Homo sapiens: one gene and its partner. The protein of the gene in region 1 purifies or fractionates together with the protein of each later gene. This does not show direct contact. Each region holds a gene or a part of one and is shown on either strand. Other genes may lie near its edges.

Region 1 (7,301 bases):
AAACTCATAATGATGCTGTCTTGGCTAGAAAGTTTGTAGAATTAGAATGATCAGGATAGAGGAGAGATGAGAAAAGACTGTAGCTTTATCTTCTAATTTTTTTCTTAAGAAATGATATGTTAATTTGTAATATTTGAAACTGCAATGACACAGGAAAAAATGAAAGTGATATGTCCAAATGTTAACAGCGGTTGATAATAGATGGAAGGAATATTAGTAGTTAATTGTCTTGCATTTAAATGCATTTTTCAATATGAAAGAAAAAATACCCAGAGACAGGTACTTTTGCCCCCTCACCCCAAGAATGAGAGACTGGGACCAGGATATTTGCATTTTTTAAAAAACTCCAGAGTGATTCAGATGTTCAGGGATAGCTGTATTTGGCAGAGGTGTGGGGTGTAATAGAAAGATCATGGGCTTCGGAATCTGAGATTCAGAGTTCAATGCCATTTCCACTGCACATTAGCTGTGTGATCTTGAGCAAATTACTCAACCGCTCTGAACCTCAGTTCCCTCATCCATAAAGTGAGAGTACCACCTTCACTTAGTTTAATGCGGATTAAATGAAGAGTCATATGTGCCCAGCTCATTGCATAATGCGGTTCCACAAATACTAGAATTTGATTCTCTCTCTTAACGTAGCATCTTTTTCCTTCTTTTCTTTTCTTTTTTTTTTTGTGGGGAGGGAGGGGGCGGACAGAGTCTCACTCTGTTGCCCAGGCTGGAGTGCAGTGGGGTGATCTTAGCTAACTTCAAACTCTGCCTCCTGGGTTCAAGCAATTCTCATGCCTCAGCCACCTTAGTAGCTGGGATTACAAGTATGCGCCATCACGCCCAGATAATTTTTGTATTTTTAGTAGTGATGGGGATTCGCCATTTTGGCCAGGCTGGTTTGAACTCCTGGCCTCAAGTGATCTGCCCGCCTTGGCCTTCCAAAGTGCTGGGACTACAGGTGTGAGCCACCATGCCCAGCCTTAACTCAGCACTTTGAGTGATTTTAACATTTTGCCAGGCTGTTACTAAGGCGAGAAGTATACTGGCCTATACAATTTATACAGCAACTTCTGAAGTATGTTTGGAAAAAAAAAAATCAATACTCACTAACAACCCTTCTTCAATCACCCAATACAGTGACCTCTGTTTCCTCTTCTGTAAAATGGGTGTAATAACATCACTTACTGACCTGTGCAGTTGAGATTCTGGATAATGCTTCAGAGAGTTCACCCAGAGTTCACATACATGCATGCGCCCCCCTCCCTACCACCCCCTGCAGCCCCGACACACACACACACACACACACACACAAACACACATGTCTTGAGTGCATTCCATCCAATTCTGGTAATTTAGTTACTTGTCGTTTATTTATTAGGTTGAAAACATTCTGTTCATTTACTATTATTTAATCTATTAACTCTGACTTAGGCCTAAGGGGCAACCTCTCAAGGAGAAAATGCTGATTATCTAATATAAAAGCTAAAAAGTTACATAGGTGCATTTTACAGATATATTCTTTCTCATGGACAGTTTGTTGCTCAGAAAATGCTGTCTCTCTTCTCTACACCCATTGCTCGCTTGCTCTCACTCAGACATACATTCTCCTCCCCCAGGTTTAATTTTTTAAGGCAGTTTTTAAAGAATAATTTTGATTTATGAAAAAATAGAAATGATAGCACAGAGTTTCCACATAACCTGGACTCAGTGTCCCCCATTATGAACATATGAACATCTTACATTAATGTGGAACATAGGTTACAATTAATGAACCAATATTGATGCACGTTATAAACGAAAGACCATACTTTATTCAAATTTCTTTAGTTTATATCTAAAGTCCTTTGTCTGTTCTAGGATCCCATTCAAAATACCACGTTACATTTAGTCCTCATGTCTCTTTTTTTTTTTTTTTTTTTTTGAGACAGAGTTTCACTCTCGCTGCTCAGGCTGGAGTGCAATGGCGTGATCTCAGCTTTCTGCAACCTCTGTCTCCCTGGTTCAAGCAATTCTCCTGCCTCAGCCTCCCAAGTAGCTGCCACCATGCCCAGCTAATTTTTTTGTGTTTTTAGTAAAGACCGGGTTTCACCATGTTGGCCAGGCTGGTCTTAAACTCCTGACCTCAGGTGATACTCCCGCCTCAGCCTCTCAAAGTGCTGGGATTACAGACGTGAGCCACCGTGCCTGGCCCTAGTCTTCATGCCTCTTTAAGCTCCTCTCGGCTGTGACAGTCGCTCAGACAGTACTTGTTTTTGATGACCCTGAGAGTTTTCAGGAGTAATGGTCATGTATTTTGGATAATGTTCCTCAATTAGGATTCATTTGATTTTTTCTCTCATGGTTAGATGGAGGTTATGGATTGTGTGGAGGAAGACCACAGGGGTAATGTGCCATTTTCATCCTACCAAGAATGCATACCATCAACATGACATCACTGATGATGTTAATTTTAATTTTAATTTTTTTTTACTATTAAGGAAAGGTTTGTTTTAATATTCAGTTTCTTTTTGAATAATGTTGATTTTGGTCACATGGCTGAGGTGTCTTTGTCATATTTCTCCACTGTAAAGAAACTCTTCTCCCCCTTCCATGTGGTACTTTTTGGAAAAAAAGTCACTATAAAAACCCACTACTTAAATTATTTGGAACTCTAAATAGGAGATCTATCTTTTCTCTACTTATTCATATATTTGATCACAAGATTTAATTATATTTAAAAACTCAGGGTAAAAATTAATTGGCCCTGGCTGGTAGCTCACGCCTGTAATCCCAGCACTTTGGGAGGCCAAGGCAGGCAGATGACTTGAGTCCAGGAGTTCCAGATCAGCTTGGGCAACATGGTGAAACCCTGTCTCTACTAAAATTATAAAAATTAGCTGGGCATGGTGGCATGTGCCTGTAGTCCCAGCTACTGGGGAGGCTGAGGCATGAGAATCGCCTGAACCTGGGAGGCGGAGGTTGCAGTGAGCTGAGATCGCACCACTACACTCCAGCCTGTGTGACAGAGTAAGACTCTGTCTCAAAAAACAAAATTAATTGGCTCAAAAAGTGAAAAGATACTTTTAAAATATTTTTTTAACTTAAAAATATTTATTAAGGTAAAAAATTTTCTTTAGATTGAATTTCATTCTTAATTGAACACAACATATATAAAACTCAGGTTCTGTTGAGGATATAAACATGACTGAGACAAGGTTCTCTTCTTGAAGAAACCATCCTCAGGGCTAGACATAATGTATATGCTGAGCACGCAAGGAAGTGCTGCAGTTAAAAGTAAGAAGTGCTTTGGGAACACTGAGAAGATTGTAATTAATTCAGGGAAAGCTTGATAAAAGAGGTCTGAGGTCAGGGCCAGCTTCTGGGATATGCAACCACTGTCATACCACAGGAATCACACTTGGGGTTTCATGTTCTTTGCAACCTCCTTGAAATTCCTTTTTTTTTTTTTTTGGGGAGGGAGTCTTGCTCTGTCACCCAGGCTAGAGTGCAGTGGCACGATCCGGGCTCACTGCAAGCTCCGCCTCCAGGGTTCACGCCATTCTCCTGCCTTGGCCTCCCAAATAGGTGGGACTACAGGCACCCACCACCACGCCGGGCTAATTTTTTGTATTTTTAGTACAGACGGGGTTTCACCATGTTAGCCAGGATGGTCTCGATCTCCTGACCTTGTGATCCGTCAGCCTCAGCCTCCCAAAGTGCTGGGATTACAGGCGTGAGTTGAAATTCTTAATAACGACTTTTGAATTTGTGTTTCATAAGCAAAGTCCAGTGGGACAATGAAGCACATGCTGGGTATTTGGAGACTCAGCTCATGTGTAATCACACCATTTGCCCTCTCCTTACCTTCTCAGCCATGGTTCTAAGGGGTTGCTTTCAAGCACGTTGGCCCTCTGGACCCACGCAGCCTTCCCCTCCCTGGTCTTACCTCACCACCACTACTGCCCTTTGCCCAGAGTCATGACCAGGAGGCATGGGCTTTGGGGGGAAGTTTATATTCTGCTGCCACTCTCCGCCAACCCTGGGAGATCTGGCAGGGGATTTGGTGGGTGATTTGGCTTCAGGCAAGCTTCCTTTCCATTCTCATTCCAGAGGTTACAATCTCTTGGGGGATAGCTCATCACTGTGGGTTGGTGCAGCAGGTCCACGGAAATGGAAGATGGATTTCCCCATCCTTGGTAGGGGCTTGGCTGTCAGCCCAGCCCTGGCTGGACAGGGAACCCAGCAGTTAGAGGGCCAAGGTGCCCAGGGGAGGAGAGCACAACTAAATGGCAAATCAAAAACACCATAACAGGACATGAGAGAGACCACAGAAGAAAGGATAAAGTTATATATTTTAGTACTTTTAACAGCATTATTTCCTGTTATTGAGGAAGAGACCCCACGTTTTCATTTTGCACTGCGCCCTGCAAACTATGAAGCCCGTTCTGTCTGGGGCAGTACTGAATAGCAGTTAAGAGTGTATGTAGGTTCTAGACTCAGAATGCCTGGGTTTAAATGATTTCTTCCGTATTTACTAGCTGTTTGACCTTGGGCACATTTACCTAACCCCTCTAAGCATCAGTTTCTATCTCTGAAAAATGGGGGCAGAAATAGCTCCTACCTCATGTTATTTTCATTAGACTGAATAAGATCATGTCTATAAAGCTACCTTTTACTGAGATAACTTCTCATGCTCTGCCTTCCCTCCCCAGCTGCTCAGAATATTTGCTTCCCCTGTTAGATCCTAAAGGAGGCAGTTTCTCTTCCTTACAATTTCTATGTGTCCCCCATCTTCCTCCCCACCCACAGTGCTGAGAACATCATAGGTTTTCACAAGATATCTAATCGTATCCAGTCATGCCCCAAAAGGATTTGTTGATTGCATGCCCAAACACACTGAGCACTAAGTATGTGCACAGCCCTGACCAATGTGCTACCCCTGCCTCCCAATCAGCTAGAGAGGTCACAGGAATCTTAGCATAAAGCAATGTATTTTCAGGTGGGACAAAATCCCACCAAAAATATTAGCATAGTACTCGGAAGGAATCTGGCTGAGGAAACCTATTTGGAGTTCTGTGAAGTTTGGCTGCCCAGCAAACACCCAAATCAACGTTTCCTAAACTCTGTTCCCAGATGTGAATACATGTTCTTAAAATAAAAAGGATCCACAGTCAAGTAAGTTTGGAAAATAATACATACATTTCTCTCTGTAAACAACTTAGTATAATTAGTTTTATAGACTCTAAAAGTCCTATAATAAAGAAATCAGGTAAAATAATATGCCCGAATTTCCCAAGTTTATTAATTATGGAACCACTTTAATCATAAGACATTTACCAATGTCTTGAAGAACATTAGCTATTTTCTAAAGCATAGTTTTGGGTTAAGCTACTTGAAGAAAGGGACGGTGTCTTGCATATTATTTTACACTTATACATAGAAGACAATCAATATTAATTTAGTGAATAAAAGAATTAATATTTATTTCTTGTTTACTCTTTAACTGTAATCACATGTGACACATGTGATTACATGTTATGTGAAATGTAATCACGTGTCACATATGACTTATAGTTAATCATGCCTAATCACACATATGATTAGGCATTTTACAAAACACATTATTTCATCACAAAGTTCCTGTTGAAACTGACAAGGCACATATTATCAGCACTATATTATGAATGGAAAAACTGAAGCTCAGAGAGATTGAATGACTTAACTAAGGTCACACAGTTGGTTAATGTAAAAACTTGAGCTCAAATTCAAATCTGCCTGTTCCAGATCCTGTGTTCTTTTCATTGCATCTAACTAGAAAAGAACATGGAAGTTTGCTACGACATTATCCAAGACAAACATGATTGTAGCACTGACCTCAAATAAGCGCAATACTTTGGCCAATGCACCAACTTCTTCTTTGAGTGAGAAGATCAGTGATATGGCACCATTTTGATTGCAGTTGTCTTCAATATAGCTTGTTTCCTACAGGATAAGATGCATTTGTTTAAAACATTTTCCACAGTTTAGCAATTCATTCCTGTTAAACCTCCATGGACAAAGCAAGCATGAACTCTTTCTTCTAGTTAAATCTTGCAATACAATGAGCTATATATATTCTATACAGAAATATGTAGTGTGGTGGAAAATAAGTAAGTCCAGGGCAATTAAATGATCAATGATGCTACTGGGTCAGTTATCAGCTTAAGGAATCTTCAATTATTCATTGATGTCACCATTCAATCCTGTAAATTCAATACCTTTTATTGAGCAACTACTAGGTTCCAGGCACTATTTGGGCTCTGAGAAATTTAAAGATGAATAAGACAATGCTTTATCTTTTAGGAGCTCACAATCTAACTTAATAGACACATATATAACAAACTGAAAGATCCTTAGAGGTGATATAATATGATTTATAAAATGTCCCAGAAAGACATTGAGAAATACAGTGTGGAAAGTACTAAAAATGGAACATGCACAGGCTTTTGAATCGTAAGACCTGGATTGGAATCCTCTCTCTTTCATTTTCCAGGTGGACTACTTTGGGCAAATCATTCAGCTTTCTTAGTTTTCTCATCCGTGAAAGCATGCTAATAACAAGATCTGTCAAAACAGTATTCAGAGGATGAAAAAAGGAAAAGAATAGTTTAAAAAGAATATTGAGAAGTATATAAAAATGATGGAAAATTATAAATACACAAAAATGACCTCTTGACCTTTGGCAAAGATCTCAGGAAGCATTAACTTGCTCCCATATGCTGAGATCTGAGACATCCAATTGTTGAAAAAGAGTTACAAAATCCATGAAAGTACACAAATAACCTATCAGAAAATAAACTTAGTCTTAAACTAAATCTCAAAGAATGTCCAGGATCTAGCACTTACTACATGCATGTGACAGAAAACCAAGGTTGGGGTTAGGGCTGACATTCCAGAGTTTGCTAAATCATTAGCCTAAGTCGAAAAATAATACATAAAATTCTATGTGTGTCCACAATAAGCAGCAGGTACCTAAAACTGGGAAGAAAAAAATTTGCAGAACAATTACTCTCTTGTAAGCAAGTTAATGAAATTAATGGAATAGATGTTACATCATCTCAATGAGAGAAGGCTGTGTTAGGAAACTCTTAGTGACTCAGAATAACAAGCCCTGCATGAATACTGATGACCCTTAGCAAAAAATTCTTTCAATTCAGAAAATTCAGATTTTTGCCAAAACATCCCATGAAACTGAGGTGTGAAGGAAAAAACAAATTTATCAGCAAGAGTGATTTTAGGGAGCTTCAAATGAAATGGAAGACTAAACTGTTAAATATCCCATTTTGATC
Region 2 (3,575 bases), on another chromosome or scaffold:
CGTCTGGCGGAACAATGAGCGCTTGCAGGAGTTTGTGTTGGTAGCCTCCAAGGAGCTGGAATGTGCTGAGGATCCAGGCTCTGCCGGTGAGGCTGCCCGGGCCGGCCACTTCACCCTGGACCAGTGCCTCAACCTCTTCACACGGCCTGAGGTGCTGGCACCCGAGGAGGCCTGGTGAGAACAGAGCAGCAAGTAGATAAGGGGGCAGGATGGAGAAGAGAGAGACTTGCTGGTCCTGACCCAATCTCTGTCCCCACCAGGTACTGCCCACAGTGCAAACAGCACCGTGAGGCCTCCAAGCAGCTGTTGCTATGGCGCCTGCCAAATGTTCTCATCGTGCAGCTCAAGCGCTTCTCCTTTCGTAGTTTTATCTGGCGTGACAAGATCAATGACTTGGTGGAGTTCCCTGTTAGGTAAGCAGTGGACCTTGGTAACTGTGGGTGGGGTGTGAGGACCAGGATGGGCATCCTGAGCGCCTGTTGCCTGTCTCACCCCTCCCTGACTGGACCTGACCTGCAGGAACCTGGACCTGAGCAAGTTCTGCATTGGTCAGAAAGAGGAGCAGCTGCCCAGCTACGATCTATATGCTGTCATCAACCACTATGGAGGCATGATTGGTGGCCACTACACTGCCTGTGCACGCCTGCCCAATGATCGTAGCAGTCAGCGCAGTGACGTGGGTGAGGGCACACACAGCCAGCAGGATAGGTGGTAGGGGTGGTGGTGCAGACTTTGTTCACACTCTTCCCACCCTGCTGTAGGCTGGCGCTTGTTTGATGACAGCACAGTGACAACGGTAGACGAGAGCCAGGTTGTGACGCGTTATGCCTATGTACTCTTCTACCGCCGGCGGAACTCTCCTGTGGAGAGGCCCCCCAGGGCAGGTCACTCTGAGCACCACCCAGACCTAGGCCCTGCAGCTGAGGCTGCTGCCAGCCAGGTGAGGCATGTGGGAGGCTTTACAGAATACTGGGGGACAGTTCACAGACTGGGGCCGGGTTGGGGGATATAGCTTCCTCTCCTCCAGCCACAGGCCCATTGAGCCTTGGGATTCATGAGAATTGCAGAGTTCTCTTAACATCAAAGCTTTAGCCAGAGGCATCCCCATGCCTTGGGGACACTAACAAACATACAAGTACACTAACATGCTGCCACTGGCAAGCACATTGGCACCTACTTGGCACAGGTCAGGCAACTGCTCTGAACCTCACTGGGCACTATGCTGTGAATGAACTATACCTGACACTCTCCTAGATTTCCTCTGCACATTCCCCACATGCTGGCCCACACACCCTCACTTGTGATGTCCCTGAGTTCTAGTGTGCACTCAAGACAAGGCCTATTTGGGCTGGCCATGGCCTCTGGTGGCTGTTATACTCTTTGAGGTAAGCATCTGTCTTTGCTGAGCCTTCAGGATCTTCTCTTTAGTGACATGGTGTGCCATAGGCCCAGTTAGTGGGCGTAGGCACATCTCTTTTCTGGACTGGCCGTCTCCTTTCTGGCTCCATCCTCTCTTGAGCCTTCTCTGTCAAGCTTAGAGAAATCCTTGCAGAAGACTGGTCAGGATCTGGGTATGGGTGGGAAGGAGCAAGGAGATTGCTCTGGGATTGGCAGTCCTGTTCTCTATGAATCGGTGTCCTTTGGGGAGGCCTGGACTGAAATACTAACCAGATAACTCCCCTCCCACCTCCATGCGGAGCTGCATGTGGATTGAGAGCTGTTTAGGGTAGGCCAAAATGCTGTCAAGATTCTCTTACCCTTGTGCTCTTACTCTGGACAGCCCTGAGGTTGGCTGCCTGCCTTCCTCCTTGCTGTTTGATCTAGAATGCAGGGTGTTAGCCCCAGTCACCCCAGGTGGGACTGTCATGGCTAAGGGTCTCAGGGACACTGGGTCCTCCCCACCCCCGGGGTGCTGATGGCCGTTTCCACATACCCTAGGCTTCCCGGATTTGGCAGGAGCTGGAGGCTGAGGAGGAGCCGGTGCCTGAGGGGTCTGGGCCCCTGGGTCCCTGGGGGCCCCAAGACTGGGTGGGCCCCCTACCACGTGGCCCTACCACACCAGATGAGGGCTGCCTCCGGTACTTTGTCCTGGGCACCGTGGCGGCTTTGGTGGCCCTCGTGCTCAACGTGTTCTATCCTCTGGTATCCCAGAGTCGCTGGAGATGAGCTCGCCTGCAGGCAGCTGCTGTGAGCTGGCCTACCTGCCTGCCCCAGGCCATGCCTGCCTTTGTTGTGGGGAACACCTCTGGGCTTTGGGCCTCAGCTTATGCATCTGGTGGGAGAGGGTGGGGAGGTTGTGGCCCCTGCAGGGGCAGAGTATCCTAGGGTGTGTATCCATCTGGCTGTCTGTCCATTCATCCTGCTGCTCTGACCCTTGGCCTCAGGCTTGGCCCTGCCCAAGCTACTTCCTGTACTTAAAAGTGTTAATAAAACCAGACTATTCAGGCCCAATCTCGTCTCTCTGTCTCAACGCCGCTGCTGTCTGCGCCTGCCTTGGGACCCTCCCTTGGGTGCCAGGGCTCCAAGCCAGCACCCCCGGGATGCCAGGCGGCATGCTGGGCAGCCCCCAACCCCTGTCCTCGTATTCTGTTGCAGGGACTAGGCCCTGGCCAGGCCCCCGAGGTGGCCCCCACGCGGACAGCCCCTGAACGCTTCGCCCCCCCTGTGGATCGGCCAGCCCCCACCTACAGCAACATGGAGGAGGTGGATTAGCAGGTCCCTGGCTGATGGGGGGGACTGGGTTTGGGACACCCACACAGAGGGCCAGCTCCTTGCCGCTTCTCCTTCTCTAACCCAGAGGACACTGGCTCTGTCAATGGGAAGCTGAGGGGTATGATTTGGGTGTGGAGACCTCTCAGGTTGGGACTTCTTGTCAGCTTGGACCCCTGACCAGTGGGCTTTGGCTTCTCCAGCCGCCTCCAGTGCTGCGTGATTTGATTCTGTTGTACCTTCAATTCTTCTGACCCGCATTATAAACATTATAATTTTATTCTAAAAATTGTAATTTTTTTTGCATTTTGGAAGTGACTGCTGCTGTTTAAATATATTTTAAAAATAAATAATAAGTAAGTAGACTTAGTGACTGTGATCCACCACATGCTGGGGCCACCTCCCCTCCCCATCATTTGCGGTGTGTATGTGTGTGTATGTGTGTTTATATATGAGAGACCCTGAAAGTGCCCTAGTCTGAAGGGAGATGATGGGGTCCCAGCTCATGTCCTATGGGTCATGAAGCCCCCAGTGCTATCAGCTTTTTGGAGCCTACCTGCTGCTCTTTCATCCCACTGGTTCTGGATCCTACATAAGAGGCAGCTTGGTAGGCATCGTCAGGATCTCAATATAGCCAAGGGACAGAGGAGTATATGAAGCACTGGAGCTGACAGCGTGGAGTAAAAGGTGCATTCACCAGAGCAGCCTGGGGCTGACAAGTCAGGGAGGACTTGGGGGACAGAAGTACTGGGAGATCTTCCTCCTCCTCTCCTGTCCTCAGCTTTTTCTTTGCTGTAACTTGAACACTAACTGCATCCCTGCAGGTAACAGAGCAGGAGGAAAACTGCTGTGGGGCAGATCTTGCT

What was found.
Region 2: the proteins of PAH (region 1) and USP19 purify together in Homo sapiens (affinity purification with western blotting; 2 studies listed by BioGRID). This does not show direct contact.

What each region holds. Positions count from the first base shown.
Region 1 is NC_000012.12:102,906,944-102,914,244, forward strand, and holds part of PAH (phenylalanine-4-hydroxylase), read right to left. Parts: intron 5,956-7,301; coding exon 5,848-5,955; intron 1-5,847. UniProt on the Homo sapiens protein: Catalyzes the hydroxylation of L-phenylalanine to L-tyrosine.
Region 2 is NC_000003.12:49,107,549-49,111,123, reverse strand, and holds the end of USP19 (ubiquitin carboxyl-terminal hydrolase 19), read left to right. Parts: coding exon 1-174; intron 175-260; coding exon 261-413; intron 414-519; coding exon 520-680; intron 681-761; coding exon 762-940; intron 941-1,938; coding exon of another isoform or gene 1,939-2,166; exon of another isoform or gene 2,167-2,451; intron 2,452-2,595; coding exon 2,596-2,712; 3' UTR 2,713-3,074; downstream 3,075-3,575. UniProt on the Homo sapiens protein: Deubiquitinating enzyme that regulates the degradation of various proteins by removing ubiquitin moieties, thereby preventing their proteasomal degradation. Stabilizes RNF123, which promotes CDKN1B degradation and contributes to cell proliferation.